4 separate regions of the Homo sapiens genome follow, and all the other regions are linked to region 4. Evidence: fine-mapped expression QTL. A gene starts in region 4. Each other region holds a variant in brackets. All regions are shown on one strand. Distances are between the middles of the regions.

Region 1 (7,531 bases), 290 kb before region 4:
CCACCATCATCTCTTGCCTAGATTGCTGTGGCAATATTTTAACTGGTTGCTGGCATCCACTCGGGCTGGCCTCCAAAACATTCTCCACATGGCTCCAGTGCTTATGGCACAGAAAATCTGTGCAGTTTACAAACTGCACAACTGGATGTGGAAGTCCCCTCTGCCCCAGGCAATGGAAAGTGGCATGGTGAACGCTTCTCCAGAAGAGAGGAGCTAGAATCAATTCCTCAGAACTCAACGTTTATCACATAACCTTTCTTGAAAAAATATTTTCATGGCATCCTTATTGTACTTAGAACAAAGAAAAATCCTTTGGCATAGTTCATAGATGTTGGGTGGTCTGGTCCCTGTGGATCCCTCCAGGCTTACCCTAAGTCCCTCTCCCTCTTGACCTCTGCACTCCAGCCACACTGGGAAGGCTCTTTCCTCACAGCACCTTCCACATGCTTTTCTCTCACATGGTATGCACTTGACACGGTTAGAAATGTCACTGTAATATATGCCATTATTCAACATCTGTCTCCATCATTAGACTGTGGCTTTCATGAAGGCAGGGTCCACTATTTCTGTTTTATTTACCATTGTATCTTCAAAGCCTCGCACAGTGCCTGGTTCGTAGTAGGATGTTCAATAAATAAACACTTATGGAATAAGTAAATGTTGACCTGACGTTCTTGAGAAAACATTAGGAATCTCAAACACAGCCATCATCTGAGCTGCTTTGTGGACGGGTCTTTGCTAAGTAGCTGGGAGCTCTCCTCCACAGCTGTTGTCCACAGAAGTCAGAGAATCACAGATCTGGAAGGCCTCTCATTTTACAGAGGAGAAACTGAGCCAGAGAATGGGGTCTGACTTGCCCCACATTTTATACTGAGTTGGTGGTGGCCACAGGGATTGTGTTTGAGAGCACCCACCCCCAACCTTCCAATCCTAAACTTGTTCTTTCCTTACCCTAACGAGCACCTAGCTGGATGGCAGCCCATGAGGGCTGACCCCTGGCTGGGTACAGAAAGGCACAGTATCCAGATACCTCTGGAAGGGGACCCATGTGTGACTCACACCTGCTTTCACACCTTAAGCCTCTCAGGCCCCAAGCTGTGTTCAGAATAGCTCAGTGCTTCATGTGTGCAGTGGACTCTATAAATAAGCTTCCTAGAAAATGACTAATTTCATAACCAGAAAAGCAGAACGAGTAGCACCTCTTGACTGCAAAGGAAAATGGAGCAAGAGCCTCTGCTGCTCTTCCCTGTAGTCGAAGGACTCCAGGCAACCCCAGCCACAGCCTGCGTGTCTAGACTGTCCAGAGGAGGGTTTAATTAGCTTTCCAAAGAAAATACATGGCCCATTCAGGCTGGATGGGGAACCCAGTCTCTGGGCGCTGCCTTCCTCCCTCCCCACCAAGAGCAGAAATAGCTGCTTTTATTGGATTGCTAAGGCTCCTGCTCTCTCCTTCCCCACTTCTATCAGCCAGGCAACAGGAACAGAACACTGGCCTGTGACAACAGCAGCCACTTGCTGGGCTGCCCCCACCACTGCTTCCCTTATAACCAGAGACCACCAGGGATGAAGGGACTTGGAAATCACCCAGCCTGCCCCCACTTCACTGATGGAGGATGTCCCGGAGTGAAAGTAGCTTCCCAAAGCCATCGTCGCATTCAACAGGCGTGTGCTGAGCACCTCCTGTGAGCAAGGCCTGGAGCTGCCCTAGGAATACAGTGATGAATAATCCAGGCCCCTCCTTGCAGGCTCCCAGTCTTCTCAGGGAGACAGACATGCAGACACGACTGTACCCTGATGCCTGCTTTAATTGATGTATGCATGTGACCATCCTGGGGAAGGCTCTGCTCATTTGTGGGAGGGGCAAGGGGAAGAGGAAGTCTTCTCCAAGGGGGAGACAGGAGCTGGTTTTTTTTTAAATTAATTAATTAATTAATTTTTGAGACGGAGTCTCACTCTGTTGCCCAGGCTGGAGTGCAGAGGCATTATCTCAGCTCACTGCAACCTCTACCTCCCCGGTTCAAGTGATTCTCCTGCCTCAGCCTCCCAGTAGCTGGGATTACAGGTGCCTGCCACTATGCCCAGCTAATTTTTGTATTTTTAGTAGATACGAGGTTTCACCGTATTAGTCAGGCTGGTCTCAAACTCCTGACTTCAGGTGATCCTGCTTGCCTCAGCCTCCCAAAGTACTGGGATTACAGGCGTGAGCCACCGCGCCCGGCCAGGGACTGGTTTTTAAAATATGTTTTTAGGTGAATGGGGGGTTGGGAAAAGGATTTCTTGGGTAGAGCAAATAGAAAGAGCAAGGCATGGAGGCCCAAGATGTGTGGAACATCTGGTGCCATCAGAAGTAGGCTGGTCAGTGGGATGGAGCAGCAGATGGGGGCTAGGCCTCAGCAGAGGCACGTGGGCAAGAAGCAGCCTAGAAGACAGGAATCCTGCCTCCTGGGGTGGCGGGGGAAGCCCTCTTCCACTTGATCATGTGGCTTCCCTGTGGCTTCCCTGCACTGAGAGTGATGCTGGCTCTCTCACACCTGGTCTGGCTGGGTAGGTCTGTAACACGAAGTGGGGGAGCAGCAGCTTACGTTTAAGGAATGGACTTTAGACCCAGCTGGTAGCGTCCGATCTGGTCTGAAACTACTCTTTTTACTGTGCTAAAATTCCCATAGCATAAAATTCAACATTTTGACCATTTTAAAGGGTACAATTCAGTGGCATTTAATACATTCATAATGTTGTGCAACCATCATAATGATCTGCTTCCAGAATATTTTTGTCACCCCAAAAGGAAATCCTGTACTCATTAAGGAGTCACTCCCTGTCCTCCTCCCCACAGCCCCTGGCAACGGCTTATTTGCTTTCTGTCTCTATGGGTTTGCCTATTCTGGATATTTCATATAAATGGAATCATAAAATATGTAGCCTTTTGTGCTTTTGTGTTTGGCTTCTTGCACTTAGCAAGTCCGTAGCATACATCAGTACTTCATTCCTTTTCATGGATTCCTTTTCAAGGCTGAATAATATTCTACTGTAGGACAGACGATGTTTTATTTATCTATTCATCAGTTGAACATTTGGCTTGTTTCTACCTTTTGGCTATTTGTGAGTAGTGCTCCTGTGAACCAAACTGCTCTGTTTCCACTCTCCTCCCATCACGCTTGTGGTTTTGGGCAATCCTTTCTGCGCTCTGGGTCTGAGGCCTCACTTATGAAAATATGGTGGTCAGACTCCAAGCCTGTTGTAACTTGAAGGTCATCACCTTCCTCTGCTCGTTCGTATGTGTGAAGGTAATGCGTTGTGCAGCTACGCCACCAGTGCTGGGTGCTGGAGATCCAGCCTAGACCACCCACCCCATTTTCTAGAAGTTCACGGCCAGTGCAGAAGATACAGAACAGCTGCTGCCGTGGGCTGGGTGAAGTGTTCTAACAAAGGCACCGCCCCTCTGCCTGGGGGGTAGAGTGGGGGATGGGGGGTGCTATTAGGAGACATCCTGGAGTCTCCTAACATGAAGTCCCAGCTTTGCCCAGGACTTATGCAGAGAAAGAGCTGGCTGGTTTGCTGAGCCAATCAGGGAGCCTGAGCCTGCTTCCAAGGTCGGTGAGGAGCAAGGGGGAACTGGGATGCTGAAGCCAGGATTCCTGGGTGTGAGGCTGAGCCAAGCCCAGGCAGACATGCCCTCTATCCTGGGCTTTGTGCTCCTGGTACCCCGTAAATACCCCTCACTGTCAACGTGGAGCTCCTACCACCCTCTTAAAGCTCCAACCCCACCTGACATCTCTATTCGCTGAATCAAACCTGTCCATTCCTCCCTTCGAGCCTTGTTTGTGCTGTTCCCTCAGCCTGGAAGATCCTTTTCCCCTTTTGTCAAATCTTACTCATTCTCCAAGGTGCGACTCAGGCGGTGCGTCTTCCACGGAGCACTCCCTGATCTCTCAGGAAGAACTGCGTCCTCCCACTTCTGGGCTCCCCCACACACCTGGTTCATATGTCCCTTTGTCTCTTACTTTGTTCTGCTGCTATAGTTAGCTGTGTATGCACCTGCCTCTCCCACCAACTTCCGACTCTGGAGCATCCTCACCCCCTCAACCACCTCTGCATCCCAGGTGTTTAGCACAGGGCCTGAGCCTGTTGATGTACACCTTAAAGGCCAAATGCAGGGTAGTGGCAGGGTCTCAGGGTTGGTAGCTTTAGGGGCTCTAGGAAGGCAGACTCCAGCTAGGAGCATCCCAATTAAAGAAGATGGCCAAACCATAGCCAGGAAGAGGCCCATAATGCCATCCAGATTTTCATCAGCACGTTCAGCAGGCAGGGGCAGAGGGCATGCTGGTTTCATGGAAAAGGAATGATCAGGCTGAACACCTCATGAGAATGGGTCACGTGTCCCAGAGCATCCAGATGGAGAAGGCTTGGCCTCCTCAGTGGGCGGGTTGCAGGGGGACGGCGTAAACGCTCACTCACCTGGCTCCCTCATAATTCATTCCCAAGGTGTCTGGATGGGGAAGGGTGCCATCTTCCAGGGCAGGAAGCTTTCTCAGCAAAAAGCAAGCTGGTGATATAAATGAAGGAGAGAGGGCAGCTTCAGATCATCCAGCTGGGAAAACGGGGCAAAGAGAGATTAAGTGACTAGTCTCAGGTCACACAGTGTGCCAACAATTTG[C/T]TTTCAGGTAGTTAAAATCCTGATTTCCTTCTGGGAGTCACCTTTCTCCTCCCCTGGTGCCCTGCTTGCCTCTTGCTACACAGACAGCCCAGAATCAGAACTCAGTATTTATATCATACCCCAAAGCCTTCTAATAAATATCTTTTCTGCCTAAGTTACTCAGAGTCCTCTTCTGTTGCTGGCAACCACAGAACCCAGACTGATGCGTGCAGCAAACTCGTGGAATGAATAGGCTCTGAGCCCAGGACTCCCAATGCTTAGTTCACTGCTATTTCCGTCCTGCCAAGCTGCCTACCCTCCTTGCCCAGCTGTCCACTGTCCAGCCATCTGTCCTCACGTCTGAGCAGACTGCAAACTTGAGTGTTCTGGATCCCAAACACAGGGTCTGAGTGTTCTCTGCTTGGGATGTGCCCAGACAAATGACTTCCCTTCCATCCCTCCTCTTCTCTGAGTGGGAGAAGTGGGTGCGGGCATGGCAGGGACCCCAGGGAAGGGAAGATGAAAAGTGCAGGGTAGGCCCAGCCTGCTGAGGGGCTCGGGCAACAGTTGTCCATTTTTCATTTGAGTCTGATTCAGGGATTGGACCATTCATTTGTTCAACCCGTTTACTAAACACCTGCTATGTTCAGGCTACGTGTGGGACCCTGGGAATACAATGAACGACAAGCATCTCATGGGGGATGTAGGTAAGAAGAAAAGGCAATGGTGACACAGGTGACCCGTGTGCGGGGAGACGAGCAGGGTGCCCTGGGAGTGCCAGCCAGACCCCTAAGGAGGCAGAGGACTCAGGAGACGTTTGGTACCCAGGAAGGGCCATCTCTGGTGAGATGTGAAAGAGGAGTGGGGGTGAGAGGCCGTGGGATGAGACAGGAGGGGGTGGGGTGCTCCAGGTAGAAGGAGGGCATGTGGACGGGCCTGGAATTGACACAAAGCAGGACACATTCAAGGACTAGAAAGAAATGTAGTCTAAAAGGGGAGTGTGGAAAGGGGGTGAACCGCTCACTTGGAATTTTTTCCTTTTCCCTCCCCTTCTTTCCAGAGAGGTAAGACAGACCTATATTCCCTTGGGAGAGGCGGCTTGGCTGCAGGACCAAAGGCCAAGTTCCTGGAGGAGCTATCCTTCCAGTCTTTGTTTTGTAAAAGCTGGAGCACCTGGGGGCGGGTGTCTCTTTGTCAGGGAGGTGGGGGTGTGAGGAAGGGGAGGGGGTCTCCGGGCCTGGGAAGGTGACAGAGCCCATCAGTTTCATGACTGGTGCCTGGTGTGTGGGTGGGTGGCACTGAGTGCATAGAGAGGGCTGGATCTCAGCCTGCAGGGCTTCCGCTGCACCCCACACGGCGTCCTCCCGACAGAAGGCACAGAGTCTGCAGACCCAGAGGGGCTCTTCAGTGGGGCTGGGGTATCTCAGCTATAATCAGTGTGGTTTCCTTGAAACATCCCTGGCATGGGGGTCACAGCAGTGGGTCAGAGTCATTCCAGTGATGGCTGGGATTGAATTTCCTACCAGATAGGGATGCTGGGGAGCTCTGAGTCTGGGCTAATTTCATTTAAGGAGCATAATGAGACATTTCTTCCATACCTGATATTAAGGATTAAAAAAATCAACCAGTTCTAAGAATAGATTCTTGGCTTGGGAGGCAGGAGACCAGCCAAAAAGGTGGGTGTGTCAATCAGGTAAGAGATGGGGCATCCTAGCCTGGGACTGCAGCTGGGGACTGCCCCCTTGCTGGGCCACCTGCTCCAGTCACTCTGATTTCAGACCGTAACTGCCTCCTCATCACCCCCGTGACCATGAAGGACATCCTTCCCTTCACCCTTTGCTTACGTTGTCTCTCTTGCCTGGAAGGCCATCACCTCTTTGCACCCCTCCTTAAAATCAAACTCAGACTTTAAGCTCCAGCTTAATCTTGAATTGCTCTAGGAAGCCTTCCCTGGGGATAGGTCTTCACTCTGCTCTAGTCAAACTGTGTGGCTCTAGGAAAGTGTCTTTATCACTCTGAGCCTTAAATTTTTCTCATATGTCTAACACGGATGACAACACCTTCCACACAGGATGGCGGTGAAGATCACCAGTGAATGAGAAAGGTGAATGTTGACTATCATGGTGACTGGTGAACAGCAGGTGCTCAGGATCTGTGCAAACCACCAACAAAGGCACAGCAGAGAAATGAGGGTGGTGGTGGTGGGGAAGCAGGTGTAGACAAAGGGCTCTGAACAATGCCAAGTTGTCTGGGGCAGCCTTTGGACAAGAGAGGCATCCCAGGACCATGTGCCCTCCCTCGCTGACAACAGAAAGGCGTTGCTGGGCCTGCAGGTGTCTGTGGTCTGGTCCAAAGGTCCAGTATGAACTGAATTTACCAGCTTCCCCCTGTACTCTGAGGAGGAGGGGGCTGGAGGGGGCTTGAGGAGCCCTCGTCCTGCCAAATTCCTAGATTGGGTGGGATGGGAGCAGGAAAAACACACACAGATTCTTTGCTGGCTTTGGCCACCCTGCTGGGACCAAAGTAGCAGGGGCTAGCTGCATAGGCAGCATTGAGAGAGACCAGGGGCTCATGATTGAAGCCAACACATTCTGTCCTAAATACATCTTTGGGGTGGAGGGTCAGAAATTCACAGTGATTCAGCTCAGACTCTGTGGACCCTCCCAGCCTCTTCTCAGGGCCACTTTGGCTTTCTTTTAAAATCTACACTTTTAAAATTTCATGGTCAGGTTGGTGAGGATGGAAGGGAACAGGAGGAGGTGATCTGAGAGAGAAAGGAAGCAGGAAAAAGGGCAGAAGCAATCTTCGGACCACCTGTTCAGTAACATCTTAGCTCCCGACCGAAGAGGATAACAATGACAGTATCTTCACAACAGAAAGGGCAGCTGTCACTACTGC
Region 2 (7,531 bases), 130 kb before region 4:
CAAAATAACCAGCTAGCATCATAAGGACAGGATCAAATTCACACATAACAATATTAACCTTAAATGTAAATGGGCTAAATGCCCCCAATTAAAAGACAAGGATGGGCAAATTAGGTAAAGGGTCCAGACCCGTAGGTGTGCTGTATTCAGGAGACCCACCTCACGTGCAAAGGCACTTGGGCTCAAAATAAAGGGATGGAGCAATATTTACCAAGCAAATGGAAAGCAAAGAAAAAACAAAACAAAAACAAAACAAAAAAAACCAGTGGTTGCAATCCTACTCTCTAATAAAACAGGCTATAAACCAACACAGAAAAAAAAGCAAAGGAGGGCATTACATAGTGGTAAAGGGATCAATGCAACAAGAAGAGCTAACTATCCTAAATATATTTGCACCCAATACAGGAGCACACATATTCATAAAACAAGTTGTTACAGACCTACAAATAGACTTAGACTCCAGCATAATAATAGCAGGAGACTTTTACACCCCACTGTCAGATAGATCAACAAGACAGAAAATTAACAAGGATATTCAGGACTTGAACTGAGCTCTGGACCAAGTGAACCTAATAGACATCAAAAGAACTCTCCACTCCAAATTAGAGAATACACATTCTTCTCAGTGCCACGTAGCACTTCTTCTAAAATTGACCACATAATTGGAAGTAAAACACTTCTCAGCAAATGCAAAATATTGGAAATTATAAGAAACAATCTCTCTGACCACAGTGCATTCAAATGAGAACTCAGGATTAAGAAACTCACTCAAAACCACACAACTACATGGAAGTTGAACAAGCTACTCCTGAATGACTACTGGGTAAATAAAAAAATGAAGGCACAAATAAAGAAGTTCTTTGAAACTAATGAGAACAAAGAGACAACATACCAGTATCTGGGACACAGCTAATAAAGAAGTTCTTTGAAACTGATAAGAACAAAGAGACAATGTACCAGAATCTCTGGGACACAGCTAAAGCACTGTTAAGAGGGAAATTAATAGCACCAAATGTCCACATCAGAACGCTGAAAAGGCTTGAAATCAACACCCTAACATCACAATTAAAAAAACTACAGAAGCAAAAGCAAGCAAATTCAAAAGCTAATGGAAGACAAGAAATAACTAAGATCAGAGCAGAACTGAAGGAGATAGAGACACCAAAAACCCTTCCAAAAAATCAGTGAATCTAGGAGCTAGCCATAGCCATACTGTTTTTTTGAAAACATTAACAAGATAGATAGACCACTAGCTAGACTAGTAAAGAAAAAAAGAGAGAAGAATCAAATAGACACAATAAAATGATAGAGGGGATATCACCACTGATCCCACAGAAATACAAACTACCATCACAGAATACTATAAACACCTCAAAGCAAATAAACTAGAAAATCTAGAAGAAATGGAAAAATTCTTGGACACATACACCCTCCCAAGACTAAACCAGGAAGAAGTTGAATGCCTGAATAGACCAATAACAAGTTTGGAAATTGAGGCAGTAATTAATAGCATACCAATGAACAAAAGCCCAAGACCCGATAGATTGACAGACAAATTCTACCAGAGGTACAAAAGGAGCTGGTACTCTTCCTTCTGAAACTATTCCAAACAATAGAAAATGAGGGACTCCTCCCTAATTCATTTTATAAGGCCAGCCTCATCCTGATACCAAAACCTGGCAGAGACACAACAACAACAAAAAAAATTGCAGGCCAATATCCTTGAGGAACATCAGTGCAAAAATCCTCAATAAAGTAATGGCAAACCGAATCCAGCAGCACGTCAAAAAACTTATCCATCATGACCAAGTCGGCTTCATCCCTGTGATGCAAGACTGGTTCAACATACACAAATCAACAAGTGTACTCCATCACATAAACAGAACCGATAACAAACACCACGTGATTATCTCGATAGATGCAGAAAAGGCCTTTGATAAAATTCAACATCCCTTCATGTTAAAAACTCTCAATCAACTAGGTATTGATGGAATATACTCAAATTAATAAGAAGTATTTATGACAAACACATAGCCAATATGATACTGAATGGGCAAAAACTGGAAGCACTTCCTTTAAAAACCGGAAACAAGACAAAAATACCCTGTCTCACCGCTCATATTCAACATAGCATTGGAAGTTCTGGCCAGGGAAATCAGGCAAGAAAAACAAATGAAGGGTATTCAAATAGGAAGAGAGGAAGTCAAATTGTCTCTGTTTGCAGATGACATGATTCTATATTTAGAAAACCCCATCGTCTCAGCCCCAAACTCCTTAAGCTGGTAAGCAACTTCAGCAGTCTCAGGATACAAAATCAATTTGTAAAAATCACAAGCATTTCTATACACCAATAATAGACAAGCAGAGAGCCAAGTCATGAGTAAACTCCCACTCACAATTGCTACAAAGAGAATAAAAGGCCTAGGAATACAATGTACAAGGGTTGTGAAAGACCTCTTCAAGGAGAACCACAAACCACTGCTCAAGGAAGTAAGAGAGGACACAAACAAATGGAAAAAAATTCCATTCTCATGGGTATGAAGAATCAGTATCGTGAAAATGGCCATACTACCCAAAGTAATTTATAGTTTCAGTGCTATTCCCATCAAGCTACCCTTGACTTTCTACACAGAATTAGAAAAAACTACTTTAAATTTTAAAACCAAAAAAGAGCCCGTATAGCCAAGACAATCCTAAGCAAAAGGAACAAAGCTGGAGGCATCATGCTACCTGACTTCAAACTATATCACAAGGCTACAGTAACCAAAACAGGATGGTACTGTTACCAAAACAGATATATATAGACCAGTGGAACAGAACAGAGACCTCAGAAATAACACCACACATCTACAACCATCTGATCTTCGACAAACCTGACAAAAAT[A/T]AGCAATGGTGAAAGGATTCCCTATTTAATAAGTGGTGCTGGGATAACTGGCTAGCTATATGCAGAAAACAGAAACTGGACCCCTTCCTTACACCATATACAAAAATTAACTGAAGATGGATTAAACACTTAAATGTAAAGGCCAAAACCATAAAAACCCTAGAAGAAAATCTAGGCAATACCATTCAGGACATAGGCATGGGCAATGACTTCATGATGAAAATGCCAAGAGCAATTGCAACAAAAGCCAAAATTGACAAATGGGATCTAATTAAACTAAAGAGCTTCTGCACAGCAAAAGAAACTATCATCGGAGTGAACAGGCAACCTAAAGAATGGTAGAAAATTTTTGCAATCTCATCATTTGACAAAGGTCTAATATCCAGAATTTACAAGGAAGTTAGAAGCACTTAAAAGAGGAAAACAATCAACCCCATCAAAAAGTGGGCGAAGGATATGAACAGACACTTCTCAAAAGAAGACATTTATGCAGCCAACAAATGTATGAAAACAAGCTCATCATCACTGGTCATTAGAGAAATGCAAATCAAAACCACAGTGGGACACCATCTCGTGTCAGTCAGAATGGTAATTTAAATTAGGAAACAAGAGATACTGCTGAGGCTGTGGAGAAATAGGAACGCTTTCACACTGTTGGTAGGTGTGTAAATTAGTTCAACCATTGTGGAAGACAGTGAGGAGATTTCTCAAGGATGTAGAACCAGAGATACCATTTGACCCAGCAATCCGATTACTGGGTATACATCCAAAGGATTATAAATCATTCTAATATAAAGACACTTGCATACGTATGTTTATTGCAGCACTATTTACAATAGTGGGTTAGGTTGGAACCAACCCAAATGCCCATCAATGATAGACTGGATGAAGAAAATGTAGTACATATACACTATGGAATACTATGCAGTCATAAAAAAGAATGAGTTCGTGTCCTTAGCAGGGACATGGATGAAGCTGGAGGCCATAATTCTCAGCAAACTAACACAAGAATAGAAAACCAAACAACATATGTTCTCAATCATAATTGGGAGTAGAAAAATGAGAACCGTTGAACACAGGGAGGGGAACATTACACACAGGGGCCTGTCAGGAGGTGGGCAGGAAGGGGAGGGAGAGCATTATGACAAATACCTAATGCACGTGGGGCTAAAAACCTAGATGATGGGTTGATAGTTGCAGCAAACCACCATGGCAGATGTATACCTATGTTAGAAACCTGCAGATTATACACATGTATCCCAGAACTTAAAGTAAAATAAAAAAGTCTGTACACATACGTGTATAGCTGCTTTATTTATAAATGCCACGTTAGAAAAAACAGCAATGTCTTTCCACTTGTGAATAGTGAAACAAAGCATAGTACATCCATACAATGGAACACTACTCAGTAGTATAAAAAAAAGTCAGCAATAAGCTATGGATACCTGCAAAAAGTTGGGTGGATCCTGAGGACATTATGCTGAATGAAAAAAGCCAAAGTCAAAAGATTAGATACTATATGATTCCATTTATATAACACTTTTGAAATGATGAAATTATAGAGATGAAGAATAGATCAATCACTAGAGGAATTTGGGAAGAAACATACTGTGGGTATGACAGTAGGAGGAGCCCAAGGGAAATCTTTGTGGTGAAGAAACACTTCTGTATGTAATGCGATTGTGGTTATGAATCTACACCTGTGACAAAATGTTATGGAATGAAACATAGAGGAATATCTCACTCCAAAAATGAGTGCATGCAAACAGTGGTAAAATTTGGTAAGATGGTACCATAGATATTTGGTGAAATTTGATAAGTTTTGTAGTGTAGATAATTAGATGGTATCAATGTCAATTTCCTGGTTTTGATAATACATTTATTTAACATGTAAATATTGCTGTAGATTGGGTGATGGGCATACAGGAACTCTTTGTACTGTTTTCATAACTTCTTCATAGTCTACAATTAATTTACAACGAAAACTTAAAAAACAAAGACCTGTTCGTTCTATGGACTTACCTCCATGGATATTGAAGTCACCAAGAATGAAGACATGGGGTTTGCTGGAAGGAAGTTTGTAAACCAGGCACATAGGCTAGAAGATAACATAGTAAGCACTAACAGACACCTTCCACAAAATTAAGCACATATTAAATTTTTATCATATTTGTTTCCAATAACTCTTAAAATGAATACATACACTTTTACAGACACAACTTAAGTCTGAATCATGCATCTCTACTCTCAGCAATAATTGTACATGTCTTTGATAAGAAGGCAAGTGTGCCTGCACACCTGGAGTGGGAATAACAATTTTCTTCAGAATGTCTGCGGTTAATATGTATTATTCTCTCACATGTGTACCAGGATGTTAAAACAGGAGTATTAAACTCAATGTCAAGTCACTACAGATATTACGTTACAAAGAGGTGCTAGGTGACACATAATTTTAATAGAAATTTTTGGGCATCCATATCAAAGCTATGCAGAGTTTGGGTCTGAATTTTTATGTGACAGTTACAATGTTGGATTTCCAGAGAAGGGGCTGCATTCCATTGCTTTTCTCTTCTCCCTTAAACCCCAGACTTTTTCTTGTTTTTTTTTAATCGATGCCTTCTGACCCTGGAGGGCTAGACATATCACCGTGAGGAGGGTAAGGAGAGCAGGGCATTGCCTTTGTGATTTGTCCTGTTGGGCTGCCCTGCCTGGCCCTCTCTGGACTTTACATTAATATAGAGCTCACCCCTGTGAATATCACAAAACGAACACCAACCCCTATCACTTCAAGGCCACAAAAGTTAATGCTCATTATTCCGAGTACTCCAGTCTTGTGATTCTATTTAAGATGGATCTTGCCACCATGACCAAATACATGGGGTGACACAAGGAATAAAACACATGTATGAATTATTCACCATTCCCCAAAAAACTCTATGCTTTTATTAACGGTGCCACTGTAAATTATCTCTCGTCCAATTTCCATCTGTCCAGATTCTATTTATCTCTCCTTGCCCAATACAAAAATTTAGGTGACTGGCAAAATTTACTAGGGTATAATTACAATAGTAATGCTGGGTTAATTGTAGTCATCGGTTAAAATTCTACCTATTACACGAAGTCTTCCATGATCCACTCACTTCTACATACACGCTCAGGAATGAGGTCTGCTCTGTCTCTGCCCTCCTTCCTTGTGTTTGCATCCTGCAAGGTTTCAGAACAATTGGACCAATATGATGGGCATGAGCATTGAGATTTCTTTTTTTATACTCTACTGTAACTGCTAGATAACAGCAAACAAATGCCATCTGTATCTATAGTGAGCATTGGTACATTGACAAAAATGGTGCCCAGCTGATACCACACCGTCATACAGAACAAGCATCAGAGCAGTCTCTTTGGATTCTAGGTCGCTTCCACATGGGTGAGAAGAACATATGCTTACTGTGATTATAGTCACTGTGTAGAGACGTAAATTTCTCAGGTGGTCTGGATCACAACACTATTTATCTTCAGTCCATGGTTATGGTAAAGTCACACTTTACCCACATATTCTGAAAAGAGATACCTGAGCACAAATGCACAAATGGCACAGTTTCAGACAGGGGCAATCCCATAACCTCACTATCTGCTTGGCTTGCCTGGAATGAGCATGTGATCCATGTTGGCCATGCAGTCAGCTTGAGAATCCCAAATCCCTTAAACTAGGGGAGTGTTCTTCCCATTCTAGCACTTGTACATCCTACTTCCCTACATATCCTGGGATTTCCAGATGCTGAATTGGGTTTGCCTGGAGGCAAGGGCTTCTTCTGCTGGAACACAGGTAATGGTAGTAGGTAGTTCTGCAATGCCTGTTGCCTAAGCAACTGCAAGGCCTCTTGAAAATCTTTTCAGGAATTGTACATTGGTATGATGTTAGATTATAGACCGAGGGCTGTTGTAAGATTCAGCCTATTCGTTTTGTGATGTCATTAATTACAAAACTGTTGCAGAGATTGTTGTCTTGCATGAGCAGTCACCTGGTGAATATTCTCTAATTTATTAAAATCGTGTTGTCCTGCTTCAGCTGGGTGCTTGGGTGTGACATTCATCTTCAGGATGGCAGCAAGATAACTTGGGATTTATAGATACCCTCTCTTCTGAGCACCCTTGAGCCACAAACACAATGCTGGGATAGCATGTGTCACATTGGGAGGCAGTCTTTCCTGCACTAGTGTCCTTCACAGGCTGTGCGCTCTGGGAATGTGGGTATGTTTACTTTGACTCCCAAGTGTCTGGCATGCAAGCCAGAGAGTAGAAGATGCTCAGTATGTATTTAAACAATAAATAGTGGAATAAGTGGAGATATTGCTATGAAAAGCCCAGTCATAATATATTCAGGAATGGAAGTGGATAGGTTAATTGGAAATGTCTGTTAATCAGTATTTATAAAAAATGATACATTTGTAACATGAATATTTCATTTTTACCTGTAATTTGTTCAGTATAATAGAAATAGACTAAAGAACATTTCTTTGTGTAGGTTTCAGCAAATAGAATTCTACTCTGTCTTGCTGAAAGCATAGCTATCAATCATTCTCTGTGATTTGCAGTTTGGATTAGTTTAAGAGTAGAATTTAGCATCAGATGCATAGCATTCTGTCTAAA
Region 3 (7,370 bases), 120 kb before region 4:
GGAGGGCCTTTCTGGGATTCAGTGACTTCAGAGAACCCTTCTGTGTTGCTTAATTCAGGAGATGCATACAGGAGCTGGAGTCAAAGCTGGTGAGCAATCCAGGCTTATGAAGATGCTGGACAGACTTGTTATTTCCTGTATGAGGACTATGGACAAATCAGTGGCCAGAGGTATTGGAGACACAAACCCTACCTGAGATGATTCTTGGCCTCTGTCCCATATCCAATAGAGATAAGCCTCTCCCATCACATTCCATCTTGTTCAACTTGCTTGATAAAAACAGTGGCGCAGTTTGAGAGAATGGACTCCCATTTTAAAAGAAGTTCTATTGTGTATAAAATGCTATGCAAATAGCATTGCATGCTACATTAAAATCTTTCATAAAAGGATGAGTCAGTTGATGTGGCAGACTTCACTGTTGTCTTGTTTTAAGATATTGGCACAGCCTGTCTTACCTTCAGCAGCCACTTCAGCAGCCATCAATATCAAGCAAGACCCTCCAGCAGCAAAACGTTTGGCTTGATAAAGTTTCTGATGCTGGTTACCATTTCTTAGTGAAAAAGTATTTTTTTAAGTAATGCATGCACATTGCTTTAGACATAATGCCATTGAGACTCAATAGAGTACAGTATAGTGTAAGCATAAATTTTACATGTACCGGGACACCAAAAATTCATGTGATTCACTTTATTGTAATATTTGCTTTATTGCAGTAGTGGAAGTGGACTTCTAATATCTTCAATGTATGCCTATTATGATAAAGGTTGTATATCAAAGTAGTGTGTAAAACAGGCACAATTGAATGAATGGGATTGGGACAACTGAGTTTCTGTGTGAAATAAGTAAAGGTGGAAACATACTTTACATATGATTTGAGGATACATGCAAATACACTACTTAAAATTTTATAATGAAAATACAATTACCTGGAGAAGCCATAGCCAAATAGTTTTTAAATCAAAGTGGAAAAAGACTTTCAATTATAGGATACAATTCAGAAGATATTAAAGAAAATATTTATAAAGACAAAAAGGCTAGCTGTGATGGCCCATTCCTGTAATCCCAGCACTTTGGGAGGCTGCGTGGGTGGATTGCTTGAGCTTACAAGTTTGAGACCATTCTGGGCAACATAGTGAAAACCCGTTTCTACAAAAAATACAAAAACTAGCCTGGTGTGGTGGTGCATGTCTGTAGTCCCAGCTACCTGGGACGTTGTGGTGGCAGGATGGCTTGAGCCCAGGCCGTGGAGGTTACAGTGAGCTGACATCACACCATTGCACTCCCCTGGCTGATAGAGCCAGACTTTGTCTCAAAAAAAAAAAAAGTTATTTTTTTTAGCATAACATTAACCATCATAATCAAGATATAAATAAACTGTGGCCAGGCATGGTGGTTCACCCCTGTAATCCCAGCACTTTGGGAGGCCAAGGCAGGCAGATCACCTGAGGTCAGGAGTATGAGACCAGCCTGGCCACCATGGTGAAACCTGGTCTCTACTAAAAATACAAAAATTAATTCGTTGTGGTGGGACACGCTTGTAATCCCAGCTGCTCGAGAGGCTGAGCAAGAGAATGGATTGAACCTAGTAGACGAAATTTGCAGTGAGCCAAGACTGTGCCTCTGCACTCCAGCTTGGGTGACAGAACGAGACTCCATCTCAAGAAATAAATTAGTAAATTAATAAAATTAAATAAATAAACTGGGAGATGTTTGGTAATGTATGTTATAGCCAAAGTATAAATTTTCTCTATTGATACAAATTTTTCTAAATGATGTTAATAATTCAAAATTGAAAAAGGTAATAAGAAAATAACTTTAAGTCATGATTCACAATTTCTAAAAAATAAAAATGGCTCCTAAACATATGGAAAGAGGAGAAATTCAACTCATAATGAAAGACATGCCAATTGAAATTACAGAGTTATATTTTATTTACCAAAATCTAAAAAACCATTAAGTTTTATAGCATACAGTGTGGGGATGGAGTGGGATCAGGTACCCTCACTCATTTCTGCTGGGGATGCAGATGGATACAACTTCCAGTGAAGGCTGTTTTCAACATATGGAAGCATGTATAAAGCACCATCCTTTTCTCTCTGTAATTCCTCATCTAAGAATTTATCTTAGAGATATATTTGTGCATGTTCAAAAGATCTATGTTCTGAGTTAATAAATGCAGTGTTATTTACAGTCAAAAACTGGTAACAGCCAAAATGGCCATCAATACTGTATAAATTACTGTCTATCTATGCAATAGAATACTCTGTAGCTACCCAGAAAGAGCAACAAACCTGATATAAAAGGCCCTGCAGAATTTGTTAGATTTTTTAAAAAGAATGCAGACCAATGTATATATTGTATGAAAAATATATATATTGTTTTATTATTAAATATTTGTGAATTAATATACACTTATTAGTAAGTATAATAGGATATGTCTTTGTTAACAAGGCAAGGATGCCTGAGGACCTAAAATGGGAATGACAGTTTTCAGTGAGTGTATTTAAAGATTATTTTTGAAAGCTTTGACTTTATTACCATGTCACAAATAAATTTTCAAACAAAAAACATAAATTTAATGATCTAGCTAAGAGAGGGAGTTAGAGATATGAGAAGATA[C/T]AAGGAAGGGTGAGGAAATGAAGATAATGAGTACAGAAATCTCTTTGGAAGATATTTTTTTCTAAAATAAAGAAGATAAATCAGGCTGTGGATAGAGACGAATGGTTGCTTAGATGGTGTTTTATGCCACAAATAGGATGGGGTGTTTCAGTTGCAATGGAAGGATCCATTAGAGAAGGAAACATTGAAGATGTAGAAGGGAGAGGCAATAATGCTATAAAATGTTTCTGGGGAGGCAAAAGGGGAAACTGCACAAATGGAAAGGGTGGTTTCAAACAGGAATTTGCAGAGCCCATTTCCTGGCATGAGAGAAAATGCAGAGAGGTGTGCTCAGAGGCACATGGGGAGGTAGGTTCCCTCTGGGGAGATTGAGTAATTCTCAGAAGAGCATCACCTGACAGTGATTAAAAAAATAAATAAAGAGTAGGCGGTTTCAGGAGAGAGAAAATGTCGTGAAGATTTTCCTTTGGAGAGTGAGAGGCAATTATGGAAATGTTACGTGAGTGTTCAGGAGATATAAATGGACCTTTCAGGTTCAAGGTTATAAATGTACAGTGAAACCGCTGGGCATGGTTGTGTGTTGTGCTGCAGCCACACTCTGTTCTATGGGAACAGGCATGGAGTTAGTGGAGAGCTGGATTCAAGCAGGGTAAAAGACGAACTGATACTTCAGCAAGGACATATATGCATGACAAATAAACACATAAAAAGATGCTCAACATCACTAATGTTTAGGACAACAAATAAAAGTCACGAGATACCACTCTACCCTCTCAATATGGCTAAAATATAAAATACTGATAGTTTCAAATATTGGCTGAGATTTGAAGGAATTGGAGGTCTCATACACTGCCAATGAGAAAGTAAAATAGTAGAGCTACTCTGGGAAATCTTCTTGCATTTTCATATAATCCAGCAATCCAGCGTATCCTAGAACCTGGAAAATGTATCCTAGAAACTGGGAAACTGTGTTCACTTAAAAATCTGTACAGGAGGGGGGCCAAGATGGCCAAATAAAAACAGTTCTGGTCTGCAGCTCCCAGCGGGACCAACGCAGAAGACTGGTGATTTCTGCATTTCCAACTCAGGTACCCAGTTCATCTCATTGAGACTGGTTAGGCAGTGTGTACAACCCACGGAGAGCAAGGAGAAGCAGGGTGGGGCATCGCTTCATCTGCGAAGTACAAGGAGCCAGGGGACACCTGTCCCCCAATCAAGGGAAGCTGTGAGGAACCCTGCTACCAGCCCAGTACTACGCTTTTGAAATGGTTTTTGCGATCCGCAGATCAGGAGATTCCCTCGTGTGCCTACACCACCAGGGCTCTGGGTTTCAAGCACAATATTGGGCAGCTGTTTGGGCAGAGACCGACCTAGATGCAGGAGTTTTTTTCATACCCCAGTGGTGCCTGGAACTCCAGTGAGACAGATCCGTTCACTCCCCTGGAAAGGGGGCTGAAGCCAGGGAGACAAGTGGTCCCCTGCCTCAATGGGTCCCACTCCCACAGAGCCCAGCAAGCAAAGAACCACTGGCTTGAAATTCTCACTGCCGGCGCAGCAGTCTGAAGTCGACCTGGGGCGATTGAGCTTTGTGGAGAGAGGGGTATCCGCCATTCCTGAGGCTTTAGTAGGCGGTTTTCCCCTGACAGTGCTAAGAAGGCTGGGAGGTTTGGACTGGGCGGAATTCACCACAGCGCGGCTAAGCAGCTATGGCCAGACTACTTCTCTAGATTCCTCCTCACTGGGCAGGACATCTCTGAAGGACAGACAGCAGGCGCAGTCAGGGGTTTACAGATAAAATTCCTATCTCCCTGGGATGGAGCACGTGGGGGAAGGGGAGGCTGTGGGCGCAACCGCAGCAGATTTAATCTTTCCTGCCTGCTGCCTCTGAAGATAGCAGCTGATCCTGACAAGGGGGGTTCTCCCAGCACAGTGCACCAGCTCTGCTAAGGGACAGATTGCCTCCTCAAGTGGGTCCCTGACCCCCGTGCCTCCCAACTGGGAGAGACCTCCTAACAGGGGTGGACAGACACCTCATACAGGAGAGCTCTAGTTGGCATCAGGCCAGTGCCCCTCTGGAATGAAGCTTCCAGAGAAAGGATCAGGCAGCCATCTTTTGCTGTTCTGCAGCCTCCACTGGTGATACCCAGGTGAACAGGGTCTGGATTGGACCTCCAGCAAACTGCAGCCGACCTGCAGAAGAGAGGCCTGACTGTTAGAAGACCAACTAGCAAACAGAAAGCAATAACATCAACATCAACTAAAAAGACCCCCACACAAAAACCCCACCCAAAGGTTATCGGCCTAAAAGATCAAATGTAGATAAATCCAGAAATATGAGGAAAGCAGTGCAAAAATACTGAAAATTCCAAAAACCAGAAAGCCTCTTCTCCTCCAAACTATCGCAACTCCTCTCAAGCAACAGCGCAAAACTGCATGGAGAATGAGACTGATGAATTGACAGAAGTAGGCTTCAAAAGGTGGGTAATAACAAACTCCTCTGAGCTAAAGGAGCATATTCTAACCCAATGCAAGAAAGCTAAGAACCTTGATAAAAGGTTACAGGAACTGCTAACTAGAATAACCAGTACAGAGAGGAACATAAGTGACCTGATGGAGCTGAAAAACACAGCACAAGGACTTTGTGAAGTATACACAAGTATCAATAGCTGAATCAATCAAGCAGAAGAAAGAATATCAGAGGTTGGAGATCAACTTACTGAAATAAGGCATGAAGACTAGATTAGAGAAAAAAGAATGAAAATGAATGAACAAAACCTCCAAGAAATATGGGACTATGTGAATAGACAAACCTACAATTGATTGGTGCAACTGAAGGTGATGGGGAGAATGGAACCAAGTTCAAAAATACACTTCAGGATATTATCCAGGAGAACTTCACCATCCTAGCAAGACAGGCCAGCATTCAAATTTAGGAAACAGAGAGAACAACACTAAGATATTCCTCGGGAAGAGCAACCCCAAGACACATAATTGTTAGATTCTCCAAAGTTGAAATAAAGGAAAAAATGTTAAAGGCAGCAAGAGAGAAAGGTCAGGCTACCTAAAAGGGAAGCCCATCAGAATAACAGCGGATCTCTTTGCAGGAACTCCACAAGGCAGAAGAGAGTGGGGGCCAATATTCAACATTCTTAAAGAAAAGAATTTTCAACCGTGAGTTTCATATCCAGCCAATCTAAGCTCCATAAGGAAAGAAGAAAAAAAATCCTTTCCCGACAGGCAAATTGTAAGGGATTTTGTCATCACCAGGCCTGCCTTACAGGAGCTCCTGAAGGAAGCACTAAATATAGAAAGGAAAAACTGGTACCAGCCACTGCAAAAACACGCTAAAATATAAAGACCAATGACACTATGAAGAAACTGCATTAACTAATGTGCAAAATACCCAGCTAGCATCAGGCAAATTGGATAAACAGTGAAGACCCATAGGTGTGCTATATTCAGGAGACTCATCTCACGTGCAAAGACACACATAGGCTCAAGATAAAGGGATGGAAAAATATTTGCCAAGCAAATGGAAAGCAAAAAAAAGCAGCGGTTGCAATCTTAGTCTCTGATAAAACAGTCTTTAACTAATGAAGATCAAAAAAGACAAAGGAGGGCATTACATAATGGTAAAGGGATCAAGGCAACAAGAAGAACTAACTATCCTAAATATATATGCACCCAATACAGGAGCACCCACATTCATAAAACAAGTTCTTACAGACCTACAAAGAGACTTAGACTCCCACATAATAATAGCAGGAGACTTTTACACCCCACTGTCAATATTAGATCAAAGAGACAGAAAACAAGGATATTCAGGACTTGAACTCAGCTCTGGACCAAGTGAACCTAATAGACATCGACAGAACTCTCCACCCCAAATCAACAGAATATACAGTCTTCTCAGTGCCACATAGCACTTATTCTAAAAATCGACCACATAACTGGAAGTAAAATACTCCTCAGCAAATACAAAAGATTGGAAACAATAACAAACAATCTCTCTGACTGCAGTACAATCAAATTAGAACTCAGGATTAAGAAACTCACTCAAAACCACACAACTACATGGAAATTGAACAACCTGCTCCTGAATGACTACTGGGTAAATAACAAAATTAAGGCAGAAATAAAGACGTTCTTTGAAATCAATGAGAACAAAGAGACAATGTACCAGAATCTATGGGACACAGCTAAAGCAGTGTTAAGAGAGAAATTTATATACCAAATGCCCATATCAGAAAGCTGAAAAGGCTTGAAATCAACACCCTAACATCACAATTTAAAAAACTAGAGAAGCAAGAGCAAGCAACTTCAAAAGCTAGCAGAAGACAAGAAATAACTAAGATCAGAGCAGAACTGAAGGAGCTAGAAACACGAAAAACCCTTCAAAAAAATCAATGAATCCAGAAGCTGGCTTTTTCAAAACATTAACAAGATAGATAGACCACTAGCTAGACTAGTAAAGAAGAAGAGAGAAGAATCAAATAGACACAATAAACAATGATAGAGGGGATATCACCACTGATCCCACAGAAATACAACTACCATCAGAGAATACTATAAACATCTCTAAGCAAATCAACTAGAAAATCTAGAAGAAATGGATAAATTCCTGGACACATACACCCTCCTCCGATGAAACCAGGAAGAAGCCAAATCCCTGAATAGACCAATAACAAGTTCTGAAATTGAAGCAATAATTAATAGCCTATCAATGAAAAAAAGTTCAAGACCAGATGGAT
Region 4 (7,531 bases):
GGCTTGGTCATTTCCATTCACTGTTGTACTTTCTGTTCCCCAGGCCGGGGTGGTTGGATCCATGCTCAGAAAACCTCCACTGGTGCCCCTGGAAACAAAAACAAGACTTGAGCACCTGCTGCATGTTCACTGATTTTCATGACCAGCCTGTTATGTGGTAATTACCGCCCCTGTTTTACAGGAGAGGAAATCAGAGGCTTGAAGAGATTAAGTCATTTATTAAGGGCCAGGGAGTCCTAGCACCTGGATTCAAACTCATTTCTTGCTGACTCTAAATCCTGGGCTCTTTCTATTACAAGGTAGATCCTCTGCTGGTATGGGAATATTCTAAGGCCCAAACACCCCCACTCACTGTCACTGTGTCATGTCTCCTGGAGGCAGGAAGAGAAAAGTCTAGGCAGAATATGTGGGGCAGCAAGAGACAGTACTCTGAGTTCAGGATTCTTTTTATCCTGGCATACAGATTTCCTCTCAGGGGCCAGAAGAAATGACCCAGGCCATGACCCATGGCCACCCTTAATGACTGAGAGGAGTCCATCAACAGTCAGAATGGAGATTGTGATTTAGGGTCATAACGGAGAGGTGACTTCTTGCTAGGACAGGTCTGAGGACAGCCAGGCCTGTCAGACTAGAAATTGCTCAGTGGGTCAGCTTTATGAAAACAGAAAGAGTTTTTCTCTTATCCATTTCTGTGTCCTCAGTGCCTAGCTCAATGTGAGGGCATAGTGGAGGGTCAAGAAGTTTGTACCACATATAAATGAATGAATGAATGCATGCATGCATGCATGGGGAGCCAAGAGTAGTTGAAAATTTGGGCTAAGTGGAACACCAACATTTTAAAATGAAATTAGTCACTAAAAAACACACATGTAAAGAAATGAAGAAAACATCATTCTTCATGTTTCCTTCTGGGAAAGCTCTGGTGTATTTGAAGGGATTGCTTCTGCCTACACAGATAGTGAATAATGGCCACTGTCATATCTTCAATCCAGGAAGGGCTAGTATATGGCTTTTGCTCAGCACCCAAAAGAGTTTAAACTTCCAGTTTATGGAGAGGATTCAGGGTTTATCTGAATTTCTCTGCATCTTGGAGGAAAAGGGGGCAATTTGGGAAAAGGAGAGAGAGGCAGCAATTGAGAGTGTCTAGTGTCTAGAGGTAACTAGAGGGTGTTGTGGTATGAATACATCTAAGGTGGACCCATTACTTCCCCCAGATGATTTTGAGCTTTCTTTGCAAATTAAAGCATTTGTGAACAGGATTATTTGGGGAAAGGAGTGGGAAATTAGAAAAAAGAACCATGTCTACACTGTGCAGGGCTTTGAGGGGAAAAGGCAGATGCTTATGCAAATTACACTTGGGAAGGAGCCCTTACTCATAATGGGGTGAATAATAGCAGCTGGCTGAATGCTCTTCAGGTATAGCCTCTTTAAATCTTCTTCAGAGCCTGGTGAGGTCAGTACTATTATTAGTCCCATTTTACAGAGAAGGAGATTAAAGCACAAATGTATTGAGTAATATGCTTCAGGTCTCACAAACAAGTGGTAGAGCCTGCATTTGAACCCACAGGTCTGTGTCAGAGGGCTTGTTCTTAACCAGCCTTGCAGCCCCATTGCAAGGGTTCAATACCAACTACACATGAAGAAAGGAGAAAAGCAACAAGTAATGCTCATATCAAATCCAAAATGGAATGTCGAAATTGCAGTTTTTTAAGCCTAGATTAAGCAACTTTAAGAAACAGTAAGGAAGAGAGATTAATCAAATAAGGAGAAGAGATATGAATAGAAGCCAACTGAGAATAAGCAACTGAATGCAAGAGCTCTTTCTTGCTTCAGAAAAACAGCCGTCAATCACTCCACACTGCAGAAAACTCTCATGGGTTGGAGGCCTCCAAGGGGAAAGTGAATGTGTCCTCCATGGGGGTGCAGAATTGGCATCAAGGACTGAATGCATCCATCACATGCTGTCTTAGTTCCTGTAGCCCTGGTTGGCCTTGTGAGGATATGGAAGAAAACCACTTCTGTTGTCCTCCCTCAGGGCAGGTTGGCCTTTTTATTCGTGGCACTGAACACAGTTTGCACCTGTATTTTTTTTTTTTTTTGAGATGGAGTCTCGCTCTGTCACCCAGGCTGGAGTGCAGTGGCTCGATCTCGGCTCACTGCAAGCTCCGCCTCCTGGGCTCACGCCATTCTCCTGCCTCAGCCTCCCGAGTAGCTGGGACTACAGGTGCCCACCACCACGACTGGCTAATTTTTTGTATTTTTTTTTTCAGTAGAGACGGGGTTTCACTGTGTTAGCCAGGATGGTCTCGAACTTCTGACCTTGTGATCTGCCCGCCTCGGCCTCCCAAAGTGCCAGGATTACAGGCGTGAGCCACCGTGCCCGGCCCTGCACCTGTATTTTTAAGTGTATGTCTGTTTTTTCTTTTACTTCCCTCATTAAGCTCAACATTTTTGTTGTGGTTGTTCACTATTATATCCCCAGCCTCCAACACATATCCCTTGGAGGCCATCTATTGTAATACGCTCATTTAACAAAGAAAGACAGGCTTAACGTGTACAAAAGAGTTTCCTGAATCACATGGTGAAAAGCAGGTCCAATACCAGCTCCAGTCTCCTGGGGCCCTGTCCTAGGTTTATTTCTGTTCCATGTCTACATCATTCACTATTTGTGAGGCAGTGTTGAGAAAAATCTCCAGGTGAGCACAGATGCTAAAAGAGAATCGGGCTATAGAGACTGCTTGTTGCCCCAAAAGCCATTCTCCTTTTCTCACACATAATAATTCTGAGTCTTAGATCAGAAAAAGGCCCATTTCTCAGCTTCCCTTTATGCTAATGGCACCATGTAACCATATGTGATGGTCAAGGGGAGGTGAGAGAAAGTGATATAACCAGCTACTCCTGTACTCTTTCTTTTTTTCTCTTCTCTCTGGCTGGAATGCTGATGTGTTTGGGAGCCATGTAGGACCATGAGGGTAAGGGTACCGCTTTAGGGATGGGGAAATAGAAATTGGAAGGAGCCTTGATGTTTGATGTCTTAGAGTTATCAGCCCAAGTCTAGTAAACATTCTTTTTGATTATCACTATAATAGGTTTCTTTTTAGAGAAGCCAAAATCATAAACTTACATTACACATACCTGTGTACTTATAGCTGGGAGTACCTATGTACTCCCAATCCCTTTTTTTCCCAACCACATTCCATTCTCAAGGCATTTATGATGATAGTGAGAGACTAGTCCAAAGAAGTGACACTAGATGGGAAGGTCAAACAATTAAAAAAAAGGGAGGTGATAGAATGAGAAATTGATTCAATCACATTAATAGAGAAAGTCTCAGGAAAGACAAACTGAGAAGAGGCTATGGGAAGAAATGGACTTTCCTATTTGCTATTAGGATCTCATGTCCATCCTTCTCTACCTGCCTTTGCATCCTGGGAGGAGACATGTCTGTGCCTCGTCAATGGGCTGTCTTTCACTCAGGCTCCAAAGGGTACACATTGACAGGAGATTGGAGGGTGACTTTTTTTTTCAGCCAAAGGGACACATTGACAGTAGATTGGGGGATGATTTTTTAAAAATTTCCTGGCTCTCTCCCTGCGCCCTGAAGGGCTGTGAGTTGGCAGTGGCAGTGTTTTTCTACCTAAGGACATAGCCCTGCCTGGTGGCCCTTTCCTGTAGCCACAGCTATAGTTACAGTTACAGTTACCGCTACAGCACATTCTGAGTTCTCAGAACTTCTCTTTCTCCTTATCACTTCAGACCTAGCAACGGTAACAGCCCTCCACTATCACTTGCCTTTGAGGGCTTCATCATTCCTTAATCCCTGTTCACGCCGTTGTAAACAGTCTCTTCACTAAACTCCTCTAAACTACCCCTTTAGAGTGTGTGATGTGTGTTTTCTGCTGGGACAATGACAGATATGAAGGAAAAACCTTTTGAATAACAAGAAAATCAGTGCAACCTGAGGTTTTAAATAACAATTTAGCTTAGGGAAGTAATGACTTCATTCTAGCCTGCCCCTAAATTAAAATCAGCAAAATCTTTCTCTCCATAGTTTCAGATTTGAATGGTCGAAGAGAAGGGGAGAATATTGGTAGATAGAAGAGAAGTGGGACGAACCTGCTTGACCCCATTCGGATCTCCCAGCATCTAAGCTGCCAGCATCCAAAGCTTCCTCAAAGGAGCTTCCTGTCTTCTTTTCCTAATGAATTCATCAGGATGTGGACTAAGGTAAAAACCAAAACTGCCTTTGAAAGAAGATGGTTCTTGAACAAACTCTTACCTTAACACCCTTCTTTCTACTGGAGTTGGTGAGTTGAGAAGTGCTTTCCTGGGACTGGCAAACAGCTGAGGATGGGGAGATGCCTGCAGGATCTGGAGTGAAACCTGATGACTGAGTGAAGCTTATCAAGATGCTCAACAACCCTGTGATTTCCTGTACAGAGGGTGCTGGAAAATAAGAGTATGACACAGGAAACCACATGAGATGTTTCTCAGCATTTGCCCTGACTCCAATCACTTATCTTGGTTTCTCCCCTACCCTCTCCGGCCCCACTCCCTGCAAGGAATCACCGTCCTGAAGTCTTTCATTGCCCACAATGAGCATCCAGGAAGCAGACCAATCAAGCGACGTGAGCTTTCATAGCTAAAGAATAGTCTGCCCTCTTCTGCTTGGCATTCAAGGCCCTGGCTTACTTGACCTTTCAAAATCAGGTTTATTTCAAATGACACTAAGGTGTATAAAATGAAATGCAAAGTCTCTCGAAGTCTCATTCCCCAAAAGCAACCACTGCATACAGTTTCCATTCTTTTTTTTAAAAAAGCTTTGCGTAATAAAACAACATTTCTATTTTTGATTTATCGATGTTAACAACTAGATATATTGAGTCTCCTTATAAAATATAGGGGACTTAGCACATCACATGCACCATCTGTCACGTTTCTCCCTCTACATCATGATATTTATTAGCTAGATTATTTTTAGATCATCTAGAGCCAACCAATATTTTCAGCCTTATCTCCTATGACTTCCTTTCATGTGCCTATGCTGCAGCCAAATTGAGTTATAAGTAACAATTATGAAGCATTTAAGACAATCAGAAGAAATTATTCACTCATTTATTCATTCATTCAACACTGTTTATTGTTTGCCTATGATATGTCAGGTACCGTTCCAGGCAATGAAGACACAATGATGAACACCATACAAGATCATGCCCCTTTGCATTCCAGAGCAGCTGGGTGACCTCAGACAGGGAACATGTGTTGATTGAGGCGAGTTCTGAGACTCAGCATTTTCTTGTATTATACTTTGGTGCAGTGGGTAAACCATGCATTTGTCCCCAGAAATCTGCTTTCCTCATGAGCAGCAGCAGGACCTTAGAAAGCTTTAACTTCTGTTACTGTCTAACCTACTGTGCTCTATTATTTGATTTTGATTCTGTTTCCCTCCAACAAATGAAACACTTATTATTGTTTTAAATAGTCAGTGTTTATTCAGATTTATCCACATAATCACCAATGCTTTTGCTCATCCTCCCATTTTACATCTCATATCTTCCATTTCTCAAAACACATTCTTCAGGAGTTCCTTCTGTGAGAGTCTCTGCATGGTAAATGCCTCCTTTTATCTATCTGAAAATGTCATTGTTTCACCCTCGTCTTCTAAAGATGGTTTTTCCAGGCATGGCATTGTAGGGTGATAGTTTCTTTCTTCCAGCACATTGAAGATCCATGTTCTGACTGCCAGGGTTACTGTTGCGGCCATCAGTCAGGTTGCCATTTGCTTGTGGTGATCTGCCTTTTTTTCCTCTAAGAGCTTTTATTTTTCTCTGCTATGATACATTCTCACCAAATTGTATCTGGTGACTCTTTTTCAAATCATGTTTGGGATTTGTGGAGTTTCCTAGATTTTAAAATTATCATCATTTAACATTTTTAAACAATTTAATGCTATAATCTCTTTAAATATTAACATAACGGTGAAGAACACAAGACCAGGCTACTTGGCATTTCTCCTATGGGACCTTAGCCAGATTTTGTAACTCTGTTATGTTTGTTTCCTCATCAGTAAAATGGGGATAACATTATTAATCTATAGGTTTGCTGTGAAGATTAATAATTTAATGTATATAAATGATTTACAATAGGAGCACATAGTAAGTACTATAAAATTATTAGCTCTCATTATCACTTTTAGTATTATCTCTTTCTGGAAGTCTAATTCAACATATGTTAGCCCTCTTCTTCTATCATCCTTATTTCTTTAACCTTTTCCTTATGTCTCGTCTCTGTCTCTGAGGCTGCTTTCTGGGTAATTTCTTCAGATGTATCTTCCAGTTAACTAGATTCTTTCCATTGTGTCTAATCATCTGTTTAATCTATCCACTGAAGTTTAAATCCAATTTTTATATTACTAATTTCTAGAAGTTCTATTTTATTTTTTTAAAATTATACTTTAAGTTATGCGATACATGGGCAGAACGTGCAGGTTTGTTACCTACGTATACACATGCCGTGGTGGTTTGCTGCATCCATCAACCCGTCATCTACATTAGGTATTTCTCCTAGTGCTATCCCTCTCCTAGCTCCCCACCCCCTGAGAGGCCCCAGTGTGTGATGTTCCCCTCCCTGTATCCATGTGTTCTCATTGTTCAACTCCCACATATGAGTGAGAACATGCAGTGTTTGGTTTTCTGTTCCTGTGTTAGTTTGCTGAGAATGATGGTTTCCAGCTTCATCCACGTCCCTGCAAAGAACATAAACTCATCCTTTTCTTACGGCTGCATAGAATTCCATGGTGTATATGTACCACATTTTCTTTATCCAGTCTATCATTGATGGGCATTTGGGTTGGTTCCAGGTCTTTGCTATTGTTAATAGTGCTGCAATAAACGTATGTGTGCATGTGTCTTTATAGTAGAATGATTTATAATCTCTTGGGTATATACCCAGTAGTGGGATTGCTGAGACAAATGGTATTTCTGGTTCTAGATCCTTGAGGAATCGCCACACTGTCTTCCACAATGGTTGAACTAATTTGCACTCCCACCAACCGTGTAAAAGCGTTCCTATTTCTCCACATCCTCTCCAGCATCTGTTGTTTCCTGACTTTTTAATGATTTCCATTCTAACTGGTGTAAGATGGTATCTCATTGTGGTTTTAATTTGCATTCCTCTAATGACCAGTGATGATGAGCATTTTTTCATGTTGGTTGGCCATATAAATATCTTCTTTTGAGAAGTCTCTGTTCATATTCTTCACCCACTTTTTGATGGAGTTGTTTATTTTTTCTTACAAATTTGTTTAAGTTTCTTGTAAATTCTGGATATTAGCCCTTTGTCAGATGGATAGATTGCAAAAATTTTCTCTCATTCTGTAGGTTGCCTGTTCACTCTGATGATAGTTTCTTTTGCTGTGCAGAAGCTCTTTAGTTTAATTAGATCCCATTTGTCAATTTTGGCTTTTGTTGCCATTGCTTTTGGTGTTTTATTCATGAGGTCTTTGCCCATGCCTATGTCCTGAATGGTACTG

Which allele goes with the higher level. Positions count from the first base shown, and alleles are read on the strand shown. Sizes are in standard deviations (SD) of each study's normalised expression. Not every link is listed here.
In carriers of allele T in region 2, the expression in tibial nerve of the gene that starts at base 4,378 in region 4 tends to be lower than with A alone (moderate effect, 0.46 SD a copy in GTEx).
With allele T in place of C in region 3, the expression in esophagus muscle of the gene that starts at base 4,378 in region 4 is lower (small effect, 0.36 SD a copy in GTEx).

Evidence for each region. PIP is the estimated chance that this variant, and not a neighbour inherited with it, causes the effect.
Region 1: its variant is fine-mapped to the expression of MRGPRX2 in esophagus muscle (GTEx, PIP 0.95).
Region 2: its variant is fine-mapped to the expression of MRGPRX2 in tibial nerve (GTEx, PIP above 0.99). The same link has a PIP of 0.9 or more in breast and subcutaneous fat.
Region 3: its variant is fine-mapped to the expression of MRGPRX2 in esophagus muscle (GTEx, PIP 0.98).

The regions. Positions count from the first base shown.
Region 1 is chr11:18,767,484-18,775,014 of GRCh38, forward strand. PTPN5 (protein tyrosine phosphatase non-receptor type 5) reads right to left here. Exons shown (of 15, transcript NM_006906.2): 2 at 4,456-4,588. The coding sequence starts at 4,475. Among named protein-coding and RNA genes, the nearest start is that of PTPN5, 21 kb to the right of the region's middle. RefSeq lists enhancers at 2,726-2,775, 3,027-3,528, 3,529-4,028 and a silencer at 3,145-3,194. The variant C/T (reference allele first, on the strand shown) is at 4,655.
Region 2 is chr11:18,923,206-18,930,736 of GRCh38, forward strand. No RefSeq gene overlaps it. Among named protein-coding and RNA genes, the nearest start is that of MRGPRX1, 12 kb to the right of the region's middle. The variant A/T (reference allele first, on the strand shown) is at 2,885.
Region 3 is chr11:18,939,333-18,946,702 of GRCh38, forward strand. It overlaps MRGPRX1 (MAS related GPR family member X1), which reads right to left and starts at 82. Exons shown (of 2, transcript NM_001393578.1): 1 at 1-82. RefSeq lists an enhancer at 3,724-4,225. The variant C/T (reference allele first, on the strand shown) is at 2,620.
Region 4 is chr11:19,056,340-19,063,870 of GRCh38, forward strand. MRGPRX2 (MAS related GPR family member X2) reads right to left here and starts at 4,378. Exons shown (of 2, transcript NM_054030.4): 1 at 4,280-4,378; 2 at 1-88. The coding sequence starts at 63.